2 separate regions of the Homo sapiens genome follow, and region 1 is reported to be linked to region 2. The links are microRNA targets in miRTarBase. Many come from high-throughput screens and were not tested one by one. Region 2 holds a microRNA gene; the other region holds the end of a gene's coding sequence.
Evidence for each region. Region 2 holds the annotated microRNA hsa-miR-4745-5p (UGAGUGGGGCUCCCGGGACGGCG, at 1,300-1,322, shown strand). A microRNA usually pairs through its seed, bases 2 to 8, with sites in the 3' UTR of a target mRNA and lowers its output. Matches are read on the target gene's strand: a 7mer-m8 pairs with bases 2 to 8, a 7mer-A1 pairs with bases 2 to 7 and ends in A, and an 8mer does both.

Region 1: the mRNA of ZNF516 is a reported target of hsa-miR-4745-5p. Seed matches in the 3' UTR shown: 7mer-m8 at 2,815-2,821.

What each region holds. Positions count from the first base shown.
Region 1 is chr18:76,358,702-76,363,132 of GRCh38, forward strand. It overlaps ZNF516 (zinc finger protein 516), which reads right to left. Exons shown (of 7, transcript NM_014643.4): 7 at 1-3,856. The coding sequence ends at 3,797. Among named protein-coding and RNA genes, the nearest start is that of ZNF516-AS1, 130 kb to the right of the region's middle. RefSeq lists enhancers at 3,177-3,678, 3,679-4,178.
Region 2 is chr19:803,642-807,641 of GRCh38, forward strand. It overlaps MIR4745 (microRNA 4745), which reads left to right and starts at 1,299; the gene lies at 1,299-1,360. It overlaps PTBP1 (polypyrimidine tract binding protein 1), which reads left to right. Exons shown (of 15, transcript NM_002819.5): 4 at 395-567; 5 at 651-797; 6 at 891-1,061; 7 at 1,188-1,298; 8 at 1,372-1,546; 9 at 1,851-1,928; 10 at 2,767-2,915. RefSeq lists an enhancer at 1-116.

The DNA.
Region 1 (4,431 bases), not on the chromosome of region 2:
CCTTCCTTCCTTCCTTTTTCTACAGCTTGGAAACCTCTGAGAATTTGCTGGGGGTGGCAGAGGAGGGTTTGTCTAGTTTGAAGGAAGGAATGTTGGTAGACAGTCTCCAGCCACGAAAGCCCAGGAGGTGCCCTCTTCCACACAACAGACTAAGCACTACACCCACTTTCTTTGATCCAGAAAGCATCCCTACTGACCCTGTAACCTACACCCTCTCTGTCCAAAGAACAGAGGCCGACCAGAGTTGCCAGCCTGGAGAGGCACCATGGAGATGAAGCTTGCCCTTTCTGCACTCAACCCCTGCAGCCTGAAGGAGTGTGAGACGATGAAACCCACATGTGCCGGAGCCCCTGCAGAGGTGTTCTCACACCCTCAGCGACCTGTGCACAGTGGCCGGATCAGGGGTGGGGGCCTGTCATACTGGGCGCTCCTTTCTCTGACGAAGTAACTGTATGCAACTCCCAATTGCTACTTCCTGAAGCACCTGCTTTTCAGGGAACCAGTGTCTTTCTTGGTTTAAAAAATAAATAAGTAAATATTGGGGGACCTCTTAAAACACTTAATACTTTTCAGAGCCTCAAAGGCAAAATTCACCTGGCTTTGAAGCCAAATCTGTATGGTGCTGAGAATGAAATCTGTCCGTCTAAGATGACAATAAGACCTTCCAGGGAACCAGGCAGAAAGGTGGGCAGGTACAGTGGCCAATTTCCCAGAGAAGATCCTCAATATCTGACTTTTGAGAGAATTTAAATATTCATTCTTCAAATTAAGGAATACAAGTGAACAACCTGAAAAGATTTTTAGAAGCTCATTAGCTGTGTGTTATTTGAACGCAAAAATGAGGAAGAGATATGAGCAGGAAACAGGAGAGTATAGGAAGGCAGGCCAGGGTGCAGCCAGGCCCCAGCAGGGGCAGAGCGGGAAGCAGCGAGCGGAAAGCAGGGGAGAGACACCGAGAAGCTGCAGTGTAGACAACCAAACCCTTTATTGTCTAAGTTACATTAGACGCAACACTGTAAAAAATCCTGTTAAGAAACAAGGAAACAGCAGATCGGGAGAGGTAGTAGAAAGTCTGTAACAGTCAGAAGACAACGTACAGAAGTGTATCATGCAGAAATTACCATTCGGAAAAAAAAAGGCAATCAAAACGGTGGCTAAATAAATAAGGAAACACAAATCATATTAAATACTATGACCAAATCAACAAATTAACAAACCAACACAATACTGACGATGGGTGGAAGGAAGGGACCACACATCCAGGCCTGCCCACAGCTGGCCTCAAGGGATGGCGTTCTTGGGGGGGCTCCCCAGTCTGTTTAACTGGGTGAAAACCTTCCTCCTGCACTCTGTGCACCCTGCGCGGCCCCGCAAGCTGACTGTCCTCCACGCCTGCTCTCCTGCAAGCCAGGAAGGATCCAGCACGCGGCCGGCAGGGCCCCAGCGCCAGCCCACTCCCCACCAGAGCCTCCAGGATGGAGCCTCACCAGCAAGACACTTCCAGCTCCAAAGGCCAACTGCACTTTTCCATGCCGCTTCTGAAACAGTAAAAATGTAGACTACACTTTCGTGTCACTTTGGGTACAGAATTTCTTTTTAATAACTAAAACACAGAGAAACAGGACTGGGTCACTAGTCCCTGACATTCCTAACAGTCACCATTCACTTTCAGCCAAGAAAACAAAAGCCAGAAAATGCAGAAATGATCACTGTGGGGAAACTACTGAAATGATTAAACATAAATCAACAGAAGAGTCTTCTGATTTCTTAGGTGGACAGAGGAATGTGTCTCCGCAACTTTGCCCAAAATAACTTTACAGAACAGTCAATTACAGTTGTTTAACTGTATCTGCATGGACATTCCTAATTACACCAACAGGACAGATCATTTTCGTACATATCTGGTGTAAGAATATCAGAAAAAAATAAGTAAAAAAAAAAAAAAATATATATATATATATATATATATATATATATAAGCTAGCCAGTTACATTGCATCGTTTGAAAGTGTTGCAAAGTAACCTGAACCGTCAAGTAATTTAAACTCAGTAACAAGTAGAATCCAGAACCAAACATTACTAATAACAATAACAATAATAATAATAATAATAATAATAATATAATAATATTCAACAAATCATTAGAACAGGAAACCCACACTTTAGGGTGTGTGTGTGTGTTTGTGTGTGTGTGTGTCTGTGTTTAAACAAGACTTTGTATCAGAAGCCCACTGTCTACAAAAACTGCACTAGTCCATTACCGTATTAAGTAAACTGTTGCTCTCGCCAGTATTAAAGGTTAGGATAATTTCTGTACATGTAAAATTATTGCTTTTTTGAAAAATATATTTAGCATGCTCGTTTTAATCCATTTCCTGCCTTTACAAAATTTCACAATTAAAAAAAAACCTAGTAAAGCTTTTGCAAAAAATTTCACAGAACATTTTCATTCAAGGCAGCAGTAACTTTTGATAATGCATAAAATCATATGTGCAAAAATCTGAAACTCTCAGAAATATTACCATCACACATAGTGTCACGGCAATGGGAAAAGAAAATATTTATATCTGTGGAATACCATTTCAATTGCGTACACTGCATGGTTTAAGATCCTTTGTTATGGGCCTTAACCCCCACCACAAAAACTCGCATTTGCATTACTGAGGAAGAGGTATATGAAGCCGTCCCCCACCCAAGGGGCTGGTGATCCCCACCCTTTATGAACAAAGTCACTCATCCTGTGGAGGTCACCAGGCCCAGGGAGAAAAGACACCCACTTGCTGGGGTGGCTCAGGGAAGGGGCGGGGAGGCAAAGAGTGGGGACAGAAGGCGCCAGAGCTCAGCACCCTAGTCATCTAGGGCACCTGAACCTGCTCAGGGATTCTTCTGCCATTACTAAAACAGGTCCGAATCGGGAGGACTCAGTGGCTAAATAATTTGTTAAGACGTATAGTCTTCCTTTGTAAGCAGTTTGCAGAATGTAGCCCTGTTACAAAAAGGTCCTGAGAATAAACAAGAAGCCTGCTTTTCTTAGTGTTGCGCTAGCTCTCTTCCGAGGCGGAATCTACGCATTCCCACAGACGTGTCTCCTTTGCCAGATTCGCTCAGTTCGAATGGTGGGAAGAATGGAACAGGCACACGGCCCCAGGGAGGAGTGCGATGGAGCCAGTGAACAATGAGGGTCTCATCATCATACCCCTCCGCCAAGCCTGCTTCCCACAGCACCTGAACGTCACCTCCTTCCTCTCTCTTATTTACTATTTTAAATACCCACTAAGACAAGGAGAGGCAGTAGTATTAATACTCGATCAACCTCAAATCCACCACGTCTTGTTCTGACATCATCCCCACAGTCCCTCTTAACATGGGAGGCCCCTGTGACAGTGCTCAGCCTCGCCACTCTGTCCAACACACACAACAAGTATCTTTTTTTCCAGTGTCTCAAACTTGTCTTGAATAAGACAGATGCCTTGTGCCCCTACTGTGCCTGCCAGTACTACTGTTTATTATAAGAAAATATGGGACTATGGACGATGAGCACGTAAATGCGTATATAGTATCTACATGTATTTCTAGAATATAGCATCTTCATTTATTTCTGAACGTTTAACAAGGAGAGGCATCTGCCTTCAGTTTCCACTCCAGCGCAGCGGCTCGGGATGTGAGGTGTCTGCTCAGGAGTTCCCCGGCTGTTCTTCCATGGAGCGGCCAGGTCACAGGTGGGAGGCTGCTGGGACATCGTGAGGGTACTGCTAATGGCCGTTACGGGGACCTGGGGTGCGTCGGAAACACGCCTTTAGGTTCCCTTTCTCAGAGGCACTGTCTGGACGGTACCTGTGTTAGAATGGTCTCTCCCCTGGGTGAGAAAAAGGAAAGAACAGGAGAAAAGCTCATTTCTGCCTTTTGGTTTCTAAATGCATTTTTCCTATTAATTTTCTAATCAACATCCAAGAACACAAACAATGACCTTCACAAAGCAAGCCAACCAAGTAGGCGAAGACCCCCTGACCTGAGCTGTAACTCATTTCATAAAATGAGCAGCAAGTATTTCAAATGTGCCTTCCTGCCTTAAAGAGAGGCAGCTTGAAAACGAATCATTTCCAGTGTGATTTAGAAAGGATCATTAGGCTTCTCTAATGGTTTCACATGTAAGAATGGCAGATGATAGTGTCTGAACCAGCTCTGGAGAGAAGGTTACAAGTTGGCAAGATGAGGAGGCGGCCAGATTGTAAAACTGTATAGTACAAAGCAGATTTACAAGTGAACGGTAGTTCCAAAACAAGGCTGAATTTGGGGGTCATACAAACAAAAAGAAGAGCACGGCTCTCACGTAGGTCTGTCAGAACTTCAGAGCGTGTTCACCCATTTCCATAAACAATTACCAAGTTGGAAAAAGGGAAGGAGTATTCTAAAGTGAACTGCGAGAGAAAA
Region 2 (4,000 bases):
GCCGGGACTCGGCCCAGGGCAAGACCCGTGGGTGTCTTTCCCTGGAACAACGTTACGTTCTTGTTCTGGGACTCTACTTTCCATCTCCAACTGCAGGGGCCCATGGTCCACGCTACAGACCCAGGTCCAAGTTCTCGCTGCAGAGAATTTCCAGGGAGGCGCTGGATGGATGGTCCAGGCTGGCACTTGGACCTGTGGGCGGGTTGTCAGGAGCTGTCGGGAGCAGGGGTCCTGACTGTGCAGGTCTTGGCCTCTCGCGCTGCTGGTTCACATGCACCCTCCTGGGGCTCAGGGTTGGTCTCCGTAGCAGGCAGGGCTCTAGGGGGATAGCAGGGACCTTCCTCTGTGGGCTCCTGCGAGTTGGTGCCTGCATCTCATGGCACCCCCTTTTCAGCAAACGGAAATGACAGCAAGAAGTTCAAAGGTGACAGCCGAAGTGCAGGCGTCCCCTCTAGAGTGATCCACATCCGGAAGCTCCCCATCGACGTCACGGAGGGGGAAGTCATCTCCCTGGGGCTGCCCTTTGGGAAGGTCACCAACCTCCTGATGCTGAAGGGGAAAAACCAGGTACCTGAGCCGCGTTTCTCCGGGGTGCTCACACCGTGCAGGCGGGGACGAGGAGGGCCCAGCGCTCACTGCCTCCCCAACAGGCCTTCATCGAGATGAACACGGAGGAGGCTGCCAACACCATGGTGAACTACTACACCTCGGTGACCCCTGTGCTGCGCGGCCAGCCCATCTACATCCAGTTCTCCAACCACAAGGAGCTGAAGACCGACAGCTCTCCCAACCAGGCGGTGCGTGGCCCCGCGGCGGACCCCAGCAGCCCGGGGACCTCGGGGGTGGGCCCAGCCGCAGGGGCCGGGGACTCACGGCTGTGCCTCCCACAGCGGGCCCAGGCGGCCCTGCAGGCGGTGAACTCGGTCCAGTCGGGGAACCTGGCCTTGGCTGCCTCGGCGGCGGCCGTGGACGCAGGGATGGCGATGGCCGGGCAGAGCCCCGTGCTCAGGATCATCGTGGAGAACCTCTTCTACCCTGTGACCCTGGATGTGCTGCACCAGGTGAGGTGGTCCCATCACCGCCAGGGCAGGTCGGCTGCTATTGCTGTGGGCACAGGCACACGGGAGGGGCCTGGCAGGGCTGGTGGGCACCGGGCAGGAGCTCATGCTGTGGCCCGGGACCTGCAGATTTTCTCCAAGTTCGGCACAGTGTTGAAGATCATCACCTTCACCAAGAACAACCAGTTCCAGGCCCTGCTGCAGTATGCGGACCCCGTGAGCGCCCAGCACGCCAAGCTGGTGAGTGGGGCTCCCGGGACGGCGCCCGCCCTGGCCCTGGCCCGGCGACGTCTCACGGTCCCTCTCCCCTCAGTCGCTGGACGGGCAGAACATCTACAACGCCTGCTGCACGCTGCGCATCGACTTTTCCAAGCTCACCAGCCTCAACGTCAAGTACAACAATGACAAGAGCCGTGACTACACACGCCCAGACCTGCCTTCCGGGGACAGCCAGCCCTCGCTGGACCAGACCATGGCCGCGGCCTTCGGTAAGAGGCTGCCCGACGCGGCGCCAGTGTGCAGAGTGGTCTATTAGGGCCGCTCAGTCCGGAGCCCCGGCGGCACGGGCCCGGCCCTGCACCAGGGTGATGCACCTGCTGCTCTCTGCACGGCCAGCACAGCACGGTCCAGTGTCCCCCACGTCGGGACCACGGCCCCCCCTGGAGCAGCGGATCTGCCCGCGAAGGCTCTGCCGGGGCCGCCCGCCGGCCGGGTTGGGGCCCATCCCGCAGCACAGCGCCCGCTCGCGGTGGAGGTTGTGGGTGCGATGATTAGTGTCTCATTTATTTCTAGGTGCACCTGGTATAATCTCAGCCTCTCCGTATGCAGGAGCTGGTTTCCCTCCCACCTTTGCCATTCCTCAAGCTGCAGGTATTCAAACGCTTGGTCTTGGTTCCCCAGCGACTGCATGCCCACACCACCTTCCCAGGCAGCTCCGCATCCACGGCGGCAGCCTGGGCGGACTGGGCACTCGAGTGCCAGGTCAGGGGCCCTTCCCGGGAGAGGGGACGCCACGTCCACAGAGCAGGCTTGGCCAGGGCAGTGGTAGGACAGGGCTGTGGAGGCCCACGTGTGGACGGCGCCAGCCAGAAGCCGCTAATCGCACAGTCTTTGTGGTCTGGTTCCCTTCAAGCACCTCCGGGCGAGCGCGAGGACCGCCAGTGGTTGGAGGGATGTCTCTAGTAGTTGAATTTGAGTGGCCTGGTAAGCGCGCGGCCCGAGGCTGAGCAGCATGACCGGCGGCGGGACGTGTGTGCGTGGCCGTCCTCCCGCTTCCCTTCTGGGACCGGGGCCCGGCCGCCCCAGTGCTGGCCGTGGACGGAGCAGCGCGTGCCGCCCGGCGGCCGCCTCGTCTGCATGGAGGCATGGGCGCGCATGCGCGGTGGTCCCGGGACGGGCCCTGCTTGCCGAGGGCCCCGTGTCTGTGCTGGCGGAGCCGGAGCTTTTCTGTGCTGTGGGCGGGGCGCATGCAGATGAGCCCAGGCCCGGCCCGGCCCGTGCTGTGAGGAGAGGCGGGCGCTGGTGCAGGAGCCGGCGGGTGGCTGTGCGGGGGTCGGACGACCCCACAGGCACCCAGGGTAGGGCCAGAGCCAGGGCCGCCTCCCGCGCGGCTCGGCTCCTCGGTGCATGAGGACGGGGAGCGTCGGCCTCTCCCACTCTGCGGTGGAGTCGGGGGCGCCGCCGCTCATCTCACCTCCTGCTTTTCCAGGCCTTTCCGTTCCGAACGTCCACGGCGCCCTGGCCCCCCTGGCCATCCCCTCGGCGGCGGCGGCAGCTGCGGCGGCAGGTCGGATCGCCATCCCGGGCCTGGCGGGGGCAGGAAATTCTGTATTGCTGGTCAGCAACCTCAACCCAGAGGTACGTGGGCTTTTCCTCCGCGCCGCCGTTCCTCCCGGAAGAGCGAGCAGGGGATGTTGTGCTCGGGCTCGGGTCCCGGAGCAGCGCCGCCCCTCGCTGTGTCTGCGCCTCTGCCCTGGCAGCCCCTCTGCTGCAGCGCTGAGACCCTCCTTTTCCAAGATGGCTTGAGTTTTCCTCTTTTCCTGAATTCACATCTTGGTTCGCGTTTTCTCTTGCATGATACGCAGAATGAATTATTTTTTGGTTACCCAAAGGCAATCTAAAAATTACTTGGAGCTGAGCAGGGCGCGCAGTTCAGAGCCCCAGCAGGCCGCCCTGCTGGTCAGCGGGACACACAGGGTTAGCGCGGCGGGGTGTGGGCAGCCCCTGTGGCTCGAGAGCCTGTCACTTAACTGGTGGATCCGTTATTTCCCAGAATGGTTAAATTCCCCTCGGGGAGAGCTTGGGTGAAACAAGAGGCCCAAAATATGTAACTCTTGATGGATGGGATCCTCCTGGAATCAGCATTTCAGGCTGTTCTGTTTCCCGGCAACTCCTGTGACTTCCTCAAGGCGGTGCCCAGCCTGGCCCTCCCTCGCGGGGGCCCAGGACGCACTCCCTGCCTGTGCCTCTTACCACGAGCCGGGTGCTGTCCCTCCAGCTCCTCCTGAGCGAGGCCGTGCACTAACAGACTCGATCTCCCTTCACGCCTGTAATCGTCCTTAGAGACTGACTTGTGCCACAGCTGCGGGAGACAGCGCTGCTGCAGGGCTTGGCTGAGGTGGCCGCGAGCGGAGCTGCACGCGCGCTCCTGGGGGGCGTGGTTGGGATCGGCTTCTGGGAGCCCCTCCAGCAGCGCTGTCTCTGCCGGCATGTGAGTGAAGGTGCTTCTCTTACCGTGTGCCCGTCGAGGTAAACCTGTAACTGGAATGTGTGTGGAGTGTGACTGATAGAACACTACCTGATTCTTATGTATTTACTGACCTGTGTTTTTTTGCTACTTTTTTTCTTTTCTCCCCTTCCCCTTTCCCTATTTTTTTTCTTGCCCTGATCCGGAATTTCTTTGCCAACTGACTGCACGGTACTTCTGCTTCCTGTTGTTGCTT